Linked DNA regions of Homo sapiens: region 2 is linked to region 1. The links come from fine-mapping of genetic effects on gene expression. A gene starts in region 1. The other region holds a variant in brackets. All regions are shown on one strand. Distances are from middle to middle.

Evidence for each region. PIP is the estimated chance that this variant, and not a neighbour inherited with it, causes the effect.
Region 2: its variant is fine-mapped to the expression of CECR2 in esophagus muscle (GTEx, PIP above 0.99).

What each region holds. Positions count from the first base shown.
Region 1 is chr22:17,367,297-17,372,669 of GRCh38, forward strand. It overlaps CECR2 (CECR2 histone acetyl-lysine reader), which reads left to right and starts at 2,164. Exons shown (of 19, transcript NM_001290047.2): 1 at 2,164-2,613. The coding sequence starts at 2,488. RefSeq lists silencers at 2,422-2,491, 2,502-2,601.
Region 2 is chr22:17,476,961-17,482,333 of GRCh38, forward strand. It overlaps CECR2 (CECR2 histone acetyl-lysine reader), which reads left to right. Exons shown (of 19, transcript NM_001290047.2): 2 at 628-722. Among named protein-coding and RNA genes, the nearest start is that of SLC25A18, 84 kb to the right of the region's middle. The variant T/C (reference allele first, on the strand shown) is at 2,439.

The DNA.
Region 1 (5,373 bases):
CTGGCTAGTGGTGACAACTGAGAGGCGAGGGAAGAAGCTTAAACGATGACAAAAGATAAAGGCAGGGAAACGCAGTAACACTTTTTTTTTTTAATTTTTATTTTTTGAGACGGAGTCTCACTCTTACTGCTCAGGCTGGAGTGCAATGGCGAGATCTCGGCTCATTGCAATCTCTGCCTCCCGAGTTCAGGCGATTCTCCTGCCTCAGTCTCCCGAGTAGCTGGGACTACGGGCGCCTGCCACCACACCCATCTAATTTTATGTATTTTTAGTAGAGACGAGGTTTCACAATGTTGGCCAGGCTGGTCTCGAACTCCTGACCTAAGGTGAACCACCCGCCTCGGCCTCCCAAAGTGCTGGGATTACAGGCGTAAGCCACCGCGCCCGGCCAACTCACACAGAGGAAAAAGTGTGCAAAGTCAAACTGTGAGGAAATAAAAGACGGAGAAGCAAGTCCAGAAAGCACCTCGTTCAGGTTACGTGACAATTCCGGGGTGGCCTGTGTCCCTCTCCCATCTCCCTTGCTAATGCAATACTCACGGGGTAGCTGTGCTTCACCAACACACACAAACGTAGGCTTGGCTTTTTGGGAGCAGTCACATGTGAGCTCATTTTTGCCAAACATTAAATAAAAAGCATGGTAGAATTTGAGGATGCACTTTAAATCATCAAATAGTTCCAGGGAATGAAAGAGCAGAACTTTGGGTTGTTTTTCTGTGCCAGGAGAGAGTGGTGGGGGGCGGAGGAGACCCTTGTTAGAAGATGATGTATTTTGAGATTACTAGATTCACAGAAGATGCACGTGAATATACTCTAACCATTTAAAATTATGTTTCTGAATGCTGCCTTAAAAAATACAACAAGTTATTATCATAATAAAGTGAGGGAGAGTGGAGGGGTAATTATCCAGACAGCCCATTCCAAAATCTATCATATAAATTATCTCCAGATTGTACACTACTTAAAGGTAGAAGAGGATCTTTGAGTTTAACCCTTGTACACTTTGTGATTGTGCCTGTCACTCAATAAATAGTTGATTAATTTGGGGGACGCACCAGGAGCAGTGTTTCCTATCTGAAAGGTGGACCACCGAACTCAGAGGCGGCCCTCTGAGACCAGCAGGATGCAAGTGCGACGACCAATACAAATATCTGAGCATTCAATGGAGTTTTTCCAAACTTCTAGCCTGTTTCTGGGGTGATTTTTTTTCTTAGGATTTAGCAGTACTCCACCGCGCTACAGCAGTTAGCATTTCTAAAGCACACACTCCAACACCCTTCGGCCGTAGCACATTCAATCCCTCCGCCGGGGCGTGGGGGTCTCCTCCCCTCCGAGCACAGTCCCCGGCTTCCCGATCTCCTCTGCCCCATCCCCCCGCCTTCCAAGCACATTGTGCTCACTCTTCCAGGCAGCTCTTTCAGCGGCCGGGCAGTAGCAGGGTTCCGAGCCCGTCTTCTCCGGGGCGGTCACACGTGTCCATTCCCTGGGGTTGGGGATCGCTCTTCCCGCTTGGCTGCTGATTGGTGCCTCCCCCTACCCCACCCTTCCCGCCGCTCTCCAGCCTCCATCCTACTTCGTTCCAGCTCAATCAGCCCCACCGCCTTCTTCCCTCGGAGAAAAAAGCCACTTCAGAGCTCCTTGGGCGCCGTTCTCGGCTGGAATAAAAGCGTTAAGAAACAGGTGGAAAGCACTTCACTTCTCTAGGCTTCATATTTCTAGGGTGGACAGCCCGCTCCTGCTCCGGCTCTGCCCTCGGCATCAATAATAACTGAACTCCCACACGTGCACGTTTCTGTCTCTAGCCCGACCGAAAGGACCACCCCGCGGGCCCTTTAAAAGGACGCGACCACTCAGGCCAAGTGGGGGTGGGAGAGCTCCTGGCCGTCCTCCCTTGGGAAAGTGCTTCAACTCCCCAGTCCCAAAGTCCTGGAGGGCGGAGGGCGCCTCGTGAGAGTTCTCGGGGGTGCGGCCCGCGCCCCCTGGGTCCTGCGGATCTGGGCCCGGGGGCGCGCGCCCCGCCCCTCCCCCTCCCTGGCGGTGCAGCTGTCCGGGCGGGGGTGGGGCGGGGGCGGGGGTTGTTGTTGTGGCGCGGGCAGCCCCGCCCCCTCCTCGTGGGCGGCCCCTCCCCCAGGCCCCGCGTCCGGCCCCTCCGCCCCTAGCCCCATCTGTTTCTCCGGCGGGGACTCGATTATATTGTAGGGGACTGGGGGCGGCCGCCGCCGCAGCCGCGGGATGGGGCGAGCGCGCGGACCCCGCGGGCAGCCGCAGCCGCAGCCGCCTCAGTAGTTCGGGCCCCCGCGCCGCCGCCCCCCGCCCGGCGCCCGCCCTCGGCTCCTGCACTCGCCGAGCGGCGGCAGCAGCGGGAGGAGCGCCCCGCCGCCCCCGCCGAGGACCGCGCGGAGGCTGCGGCGCTGCCGCGGCGGGAGTCCCAGGTCGGCGGGCAGAGCGCGGGCAGCGAGGGGCCGCCGCCTGTGCCGCAGCGGGGAGATGTGCCCAGAGGAGGGCGGCGCGGCCGGGCTGGGCGAGCTCCGCTCCTGGTGGGAGGTCCCGGCCATCGCGCACTTCTGCTCGCTCTTTCGCACCGCGTTCCGCCTGCCCGACTTCGAGATCGAGGTGAGTGGCCGCGCGGGCGGGAGGCGGCGCGCTGCGCCCCCTGCTCCCCCTGCCCCGCGCGGGGTGTCCCGGGCCGTCGCGCAGAGGGGCCGGGGCCCGAGGGACTTCGGCCGGGAGTCGGGGGCCAGGAGGAGGGCGCAAAAGGGCAGGAGGGCGGGCGGGGGCCGCCGGGCTGTGCCCGGGTGCCGAGGGGCGTCGGGCCGGGGACGCCGGATCCTGGGGTGGAGGAGCAGGCACCGCGAGGGCGGGGCGGGCCCGTGCTTTTGTGGGAGAGGGAGCGGGAGCGGGACCCGGCGACCCTCCCGGGACTTCTCCGGTGGGCTGGGGCTGGGTGTGGGCGCGAGGGCTGCGCGCGCTCGCCGCCCGGTGCCATTGAGGCGCGAGCCAGCTGCTCCGGCGGGGCCGGGCGCGGGGGGGGGGCCCGCGCGGGATTAACTCGGACCGGGGCGGGAGTCGGCCGCGGCCGGCGGGGAGGGCTAGCCCCGCTCTGGCGGGCGGGCGCGTGGCAGGGGCTCCCGGAGGCCCCAAGCTCCCGGGAGGCGCTCCGGCCAACTTCGGGCCGGTGGGGACCGGGCCTGGGCGCGGGGCTCTGGAGGTGTGGAAGGAAAGTTTGGGACTCCGTTATTCTTCCACAGCGTCCTTCCTCCCGTAATATCCAGCCTCTTTATCGCGGGGCTCGGGAGCCCTTGGAGTTGATCTCGCCACCATTATCCCCCCGGGCGAGCGCGGAGGACGGGCTGGCCATTCTGGCCAGGCCGGAGGTGTTTTCCAGCCCGGGGCTTTGTGATAACTGGGCCGAAACCCGAGGGTCCTGGAGCGCGGCGGGTGGCGGGAGCTTGCGGAGCGCGGCGCACTCGGCGGCCAGGCATCGGCCAGCCCAGCGGCAGCCCCCTTTCTCCTATTTTTATTTTTATTTTTGGAAGGAGCTGAGAATTAGTCGATTGGTTGGCAGGTTGAATTGCCTTCTCTTCTATGGCAATATGTGTCGTGACTTTTCACCTTTTGCCTTTGGACAAAGGTGAATGGCAACTGCGTTGGTCAGTTTTTGTTTTCTGTTCTGCGGATGGGTTCGCCGACGCAGTAATCAAAATTAGAGCCACTCTTTTGGAAGAGCAAATCGTTGTTGTTGCCTCCCCAGCCCCACGGATCTTACTTTGTGCCATTTTCGGGTTGATTTTAACTCGTTTATTTCAGAGCTCTTTGCCTCACCTTTATTTTTAGATTTAGTCGTGTTTGCTGAAATATCAGTTGCTTCTTCTGTGAATGAAGTGTGGGAACTTGCTCTCGTCGCAGTTAATGAAATCAGGAAAATAAAAAGATCAAAAGGGTTGGGGATGGGAGAATGAAGAGGAATGTAGACAGATAGTCTAGGGCCACTCACTGGCTTTTGGCGATTCTTAGTTCCTTAAGCTGATTAAAACAATGTGAGGAAATGTGGGCTTCTCCACTTTTTAGGAAGAGGTAATAACGGGCATTTTACGTGGCGCCACAGCGTTTGTTTTCAAAGTTTGAACGTGAATGTAGCAAGCATAATTTTATTAATGAAAATATTCTTTAGACAACTGTTAATATTGACGAAAGAAGAGAAACAGAGACACGGAAGCTAAAGAGTTGGGAATCCTAAAGGTCAAAGGATGTTTCTCAGTTACTCTGATGTCCTGTGTTTTCTTTCAGTTGGTACAAAATCGTGAGTAGTTTAATTATATCCTGCAGTCAAAATGGTGGCTGTGGTGGGAGGTGCCGCCTGTGACAGGGCCATCTTGGGTGCTGGTAAACTTGCACCTAGTCCCTTTTCTTCCTTGCGAGATAAAGTTGAGGTGGTGCTGGGATTATGAGTTCAGAGTTTAAAGACCCATCCTAAAAATATTGTTGGAAAAACTTTATGTCTCAAAATCCATGTATTCCCATTTTGTTGATGAAAAGCTAGAGGTAACTCATTTTGCCTTAAGTACTCGCAGCATATTTAGAGTAACCTGTAAATAACTTGTCTTCTGTTATAAGCAATAAACTTGTGGTTTCTGAGAATTAGCTGGTTTAATTCCTAAAGGAAATGTAAACTGATTAAAGAGGTCAAATTTATATGTATAACATGAAAAATCACTGTAGTTTACATGGTGAATAATCAAGGCTATTTGATATGACTGTCCTCTCTTTTGACTCCAGTGTTTCTTGGAAATGACACTTTTTTGGGGCTAAAATACATGCTGTTTGAAATACATGCAACAGAAATGAATATTTGGCTTCAAACATGCAGGTTTTAAGAACTATCCACACTCGTTTTTATTTGGAGATGTTCAGTCAGTGGATAACAAAGTGACTTTTCTCACCTGCAGTTTTTGTCTAATCCATCTCAGGTATGTTTTGATATGGCTAATGGAAATTTTAACTTACGCTTTTTAGTAGTTATCAAAAATTAGAATTTTATTGGGAATGATTATATGTGAGATTTAAAAATTAAGATTTAAGAATGTATTTTCTCGACTCGGTGGCTCACCCCTGTAATCCCAGCACTTTGGGAGGCCGAGGTGGGTCGATCACCTGAAGTCAGGAGTTCGAGACGAGACTGGCTAACATGATGAAACCCCGTTTCTACTAAAAATATAAAAAGTTAGCCAGGCATGGTGGCGCGCTCCTGTAATCCCAGTTACATCCGTAGGCTGAGGCAGGATGATCGCTTGAACCCGGTAGGCGGAGGTGGCAGCGAGCCGAGATCGTGCCATTGCACTGCAGCCTGGGCGACAGGGCGAGACTCTGTCTCAA
Region 2 (5,373 bases), 110 kb after region 1:
AAAGCAAAGACATTCACAGAGACGTTACCTCATTCTGTTTAGATGATGTAAGATTAGCCTTGGATCTCGCAATCACCTTTCATCAGCCATGTAGGTGTGGCATCCCAAAATAAAAATTGTCATTATCACTTACTAACAAATGCCATTCAAAATACAGTGGTTCTTTAAAGCTGTTGCAGATGGTTTATCTCTTGAGAAGGTTGAGTAAATGACAAATGTTTCATAAACAATTACATGAGCACTCCTTTCCTCTCTTTTGCGATTAAAATAGCAGTACAGCACATTTGTATTTATACTCGATTATATATAATCAAAGAGTTAAGCTCTTTAATTATGCAGCTAGCATTGATTTATCAAAAAGAGTTATGTGTGTTTCTTCTCATGTGCCGGTAAGAGGAATGGGGTTGGGGAGGGAGTAGTGAGAGAAATAAAACCCTGGGAAAAAGAAAACGCGGAATCCGGTTGCTCTTCTCACAGTAGCCAGAAGGAAGGGCAGAGCTGATCTCTGGCAAGTCCTTCCGCTGCTGGGACCATTCAGTTCTTGGGGCTTGTGCTGGCGGTAGGAAGGGGTGTGTATTTTAAGAAATCTCTGTTTGATTTCTCAACTTCCCTCTCTCCCTCCCTCAGGAGTTAGAAGCCGCTCTTCACAGAGATGACGTGGAGTTTATCAGTGACCTGATTGCCTGCCTGCTTCAGGGCTGCTATCAACGAAGAGATATCACGTGAGTAATTCTGATCTTTCTAAGCATTTCTTGCGCCAAGAACTAATTAACCAACCATAGTGATGTTTCCTGTCTCCTGTGACAAACCAGAACCGATCATTAGGCATCACGGGACACTGTAGATGGAGGACGTACACGTAAATTTCCAGGCTGTGTTTGGCTTATTCTGCAGTTGGGTTTTTATTCCATCATAATCTTTGAGTTTATTTCATTCTCACAAATCCATATCACTTACTCTTGGATACCCCAGCTAACATATTTTAGTGTAGAATTTCTTCTTATATTTGCCATTTTCTGATTTTGCAGTATTGGTAAAGTATTGCCTAAGAAATCAAAACTAGTTTTTATTACCTTTCTGTCATTTGAGTATCTTCTGTTGTTTACATAGCCAGCAGCACTGATGTAATAAAAAAAAAAGAGAGATGTGTAGAGACATTGAGCAAAATGTGATGTATGGAGACAAATAAAGGAGAGTCCTGATAGGACCTCTTGTTTTGATCTTTACTTAATACACGTTTCTTTGCTATGTGTCTATATAGGACAGAACTACAGGGCAAACTCACAAAAAGGTGAGATGCAATGGGTTTCCTGGTCTCTTGCCTTCTGATGCCATGTAGGGGGTTTGAGTTGTTATGGTTTGCCTTTCTCAGATAGGTAAAATGGTATCAAATTTTTTTTTTTTTTTTTTTTTGAGACGGAGTCTCACTCTGTCGCCCAGGCTGGAGTGCAGTGGCGCAATCCCGGCTCACTGCAAGCTTCACCTCCCAGGTTCACGCCATTCTCCTGCCTCAGCCTCTCGAGTAGCTGGGACTACAGGCACTCGCCACCACGCCCGGCTAATTTTTTGTATTTTTAGTGGAAATGGGGTTTCACCGTGTTAGCCAGGATGGTCTCGATCTCCCGACCTCGTGATCTGCCCGCCTCGACCTCACAAAGTGCTGGGATTACAGGCGTGAGCCACCGCGCCTGGCCAAGTATCAGATATTTTTGTTCTAACGAATTCAGTCTGTTAGGGCTGGGAAACGATGCTTGTTGTTAATGTGCAATAAAGTTGTAGACAAGGTAAGAAGGAGATGTAAATGCTGTTTTTCTCAGGGTGGAAGTCTGCATTCTCTAGGGGAGAGTTATTGCTCGTGCACTAAGTATAATGACTTTTCCCCCTAGAATACCCAGGTTGTATTTGTAAATAAAAATAAACATAAAATATACCTTAGAATATTTTCTTCCGTTCTCTATTTAGGATGTAGACTTGGGAGTTTGTAATTTTTAAGCACTGTTGTATTCGTACCTTGTGTTTAATTCCACATTTTCATAACCTGGAATTTTTTTTCATTATAGCAATCAGTTTTCTTATAACCACATTTTCTAAATGTCATTGTCAAATAATCCAGTCTGGTAGCTGACAAGTTATGTCTAGCTTTTAGCTGTTATAAACATATATAATGCATAGCTTTGTACAAAATTCACCAGGTTCCTGGAAGTACATCACTCAGTCAAAAGATATGCCCATTTAAGATCTTCATTTTAAGCAAGGCTTAAAGGCTTTTGCCAGGTTTCCCGTCACAGAGGTGGTTGTATTTTAGCCTTAAATGATCAGTGCGTGAGAGTGTCTGCTTGGATGATCCTTGTGAGCCCTCTGTACACAGACTAGTAGGTACTGGCAGCACAAACACTCACCAGATCTCTTAGAGTTCACAGTTGTGACAGGGAGGTCCA[T/C]GAATCATTACAGTAATGATTATATAGTTGCCAGTTATGTAATTACAACAGTAAGTGCTTAGAAATAAAAATACAACATATTAACAGAGCATACAACCTGGGGTAAGAAAGTGACTTGTGAACTGAGCCTTCACATATGGGCTGTTTTCTCTCATAGGATATTCCTCCGTGGCTGAGTTCATCCTCTAATTTGTCCTTCTGTTTAAAATTGATCTTAACTAATTCTGCTTGTTTGTTCTTCCAGATAGTGGTTACAAAGTTATGTCCTGTTCTTTAAGAACTCCCCTTATCTAATCATTCTAACTAGAATCAAATAAACCTATGAAGAAATGTGGGCAAAATTGACATCCCTACAATGTGGTCTTTCTTTTTTTTTTTTTTTTTTTTGGGACAGGGTCTTGCTGTTTCACCCAGGCTGGAGTGCAGTGGCAGGATCCTGTCTCACTGTAGCCTCAACCTGGGCTCTAGCAGTCTTCCCACCTCAGCCTCCTGAGTAGCTCAGGACAGGACTGTGCCACCATCCCCAGCTGATTTTTAACAATTTTTTGTAGAGACAAGGTCTGTGTTCCCTGGCTGGTCTTGAACTCCTGGTCTCAAGCGATCCTGCTGCCTTGGCCTCTCAAAGTGCTGGGATTACAGGTGTGAGCCACTGTGCCTTGCCCCTACAAGTATTTATTAAATAATAGAATACCGTATCCCTGTATCTGTCTTTAATTTGCAGAGTTTATTGGCCTTGATTTTTTTCTTGAGTTAGTATTCTTTTGACTCTCTAGGATTATTATCTATCTCTTTTTTCAGTGTTAATACTGATGTCTGCTTCAAGCTGTATTATCCATTGTTAAGTAACAAATTACCCTAAAACTTAGCAACTTAAAACCACAAAAAGTGTAATCTTACAGTTTCTGTGGGTCAGGAACCTGGACAAACCACTACTGGTGTGTTTAGCTCGAGTTAGCTTACAGGTCTGTGATCAAGGTACCAGTGACAGCAGTCATCTTGAAACTTACTACTCATGTATAATACACACACACACACACACACACACACACACACACACACACAGAGAAAAGTGCTCATTTCCTAATTCTAAAGCTCAATGAATTTTCACAAACTGAACACACCTGTGTAACAGAGAACCTGGACAAGAAAGAACACTACAATCTACTTTACTTTTTTCCCTGAAGGGAATTGCCTAAAATGATGGTTCCACATGCGGTTACTGTGAATGTACACTCGTTCTTGTCTGAAGTTCTACTTTGATCTCATTCTAAAGAAAGAGAAATTTGGATAAGTAAATGTTTACCTGTTATGCCTCCAAGACTAAACTGTTCTATGCAGCTTAAAAAGTTACTTAATTTCGGCCGGGCGCAGTGGCTCATGCCTATAATCTCAGCACTTTGGGAGGCCGAGACGGGCAGATCACTTGAGGTCGGGAGTTCAAGAGCAGTCTGGCCAATGTGATGAAACCCGGTCTCTACTAAAAATACAAAAATTAGCCAGGCGTGGTGGTGCACGCCTGTAGTCCCAGCTACTCAGGAGGCTGAGATGGGAGAATTGCTTCAACCCGGGAGGCGGAGGTTGCAGTGAGCCAAGATCGCACCATTGCACTCCAGCGTGGGCGAAAGAGTGAGACTCCATCTCTTTTTTTTTTAAAAAAAAAAAAGGCCGGGCACGGTGCCTCACGCCTGTAATCCCAGCACTTTGGGAGGTGGAGGCGGGCAGATCACGAGGTCAGGAAATCAAGACCATCCTGGCTAACACGGTGAAACCCCGTCTCTACTAAAAATACAAAAAATTAGCCGGGCGTGGTGGTGGGCGCCTGTAGTCCCAGCTACTTGGGAGGCTGAGGCATGAGAATGGCGTGAACCCGGGAGGTGGAGGTTGCAGTGAGCCAAGATCGTGTCATTGCACTCCAGCCTGGGTGACAGAGCGAGACTCTGTCTCAAAAAAAAAAAAAAAAAAAAAGTAACTTCATTTAGTTGTGCATAATTCGCCTCATCTATAAAATGGAATTAGTGACAATATTCAGTAAAGTTATTATGAGGATTAAACGAAATGATGAGTGAGAGTAATCATCATGAAACACTATGCCTAGTTCCTCCAAAGGCTCAGCAGAAAACAGATTTTGACTCAACCAAGTGTCTGTATCCTTTTCCGTTGTGGTTTGCATGTTTTAGAACAGGGGCCAGCAAATGTTTTTTGTAAAGGGCCAGATAGTCAATACAGGCATGCATCACATACTGTCATTTTGTTCAGTGGCAGACCTCATGTACGACAGTGGTCACACGAGGTTGTGATAGACACAAAAATTTTTATCCCCTAGAGATATTATTGCCCTTGTAACATGCTTGCACATGCATTACTCATGTGGTTATGGTGATGCTGGTGTAAACAAACCTAGTGCGCTACCAGTCATATAAAGACCTAGCACTTACAGGCCAGGCGTGGTGGCTCACGCCTGTAATCCTAGCACTTTGGGAGGCCGAGGCGGGCGGATCACCAGGTCAGGAGATCAAGACCATCCTGGCTAACACAGTGAAACCCCATCTCTACTAAAGATACAAAAAAGTAGCCGGGCGTGGTGGCGGCACCTGTAGTCCCAGCTACTCGGGAGACTGAGGCAGGAGAATGGCATGAACCTGGGAGGCGGAGCTTGCAGGAAGCCGAGATCACGCCACTGCTCTCCAGCCTGGGTGACAGATCGAGACTCTGTCTCCAAAAAAAAAAAAAAAAAAAAAAAAAAGGGCGTGGCATGGTGACTCACGCCTGCAATCCCAGCACTTTGGGAGGCTGAGGCAGGTGGATCACAAGGTCAGAAGATCGAGACCATCCTGGCTAACATGGTGAAACCCCGTCTCTACTAAAAATACAAAAAATTAGCCGGGCGTGGTGGCAGGTGCCTGTAGTCCCAGCTACTCGGGAGGCTGAGGCAGGA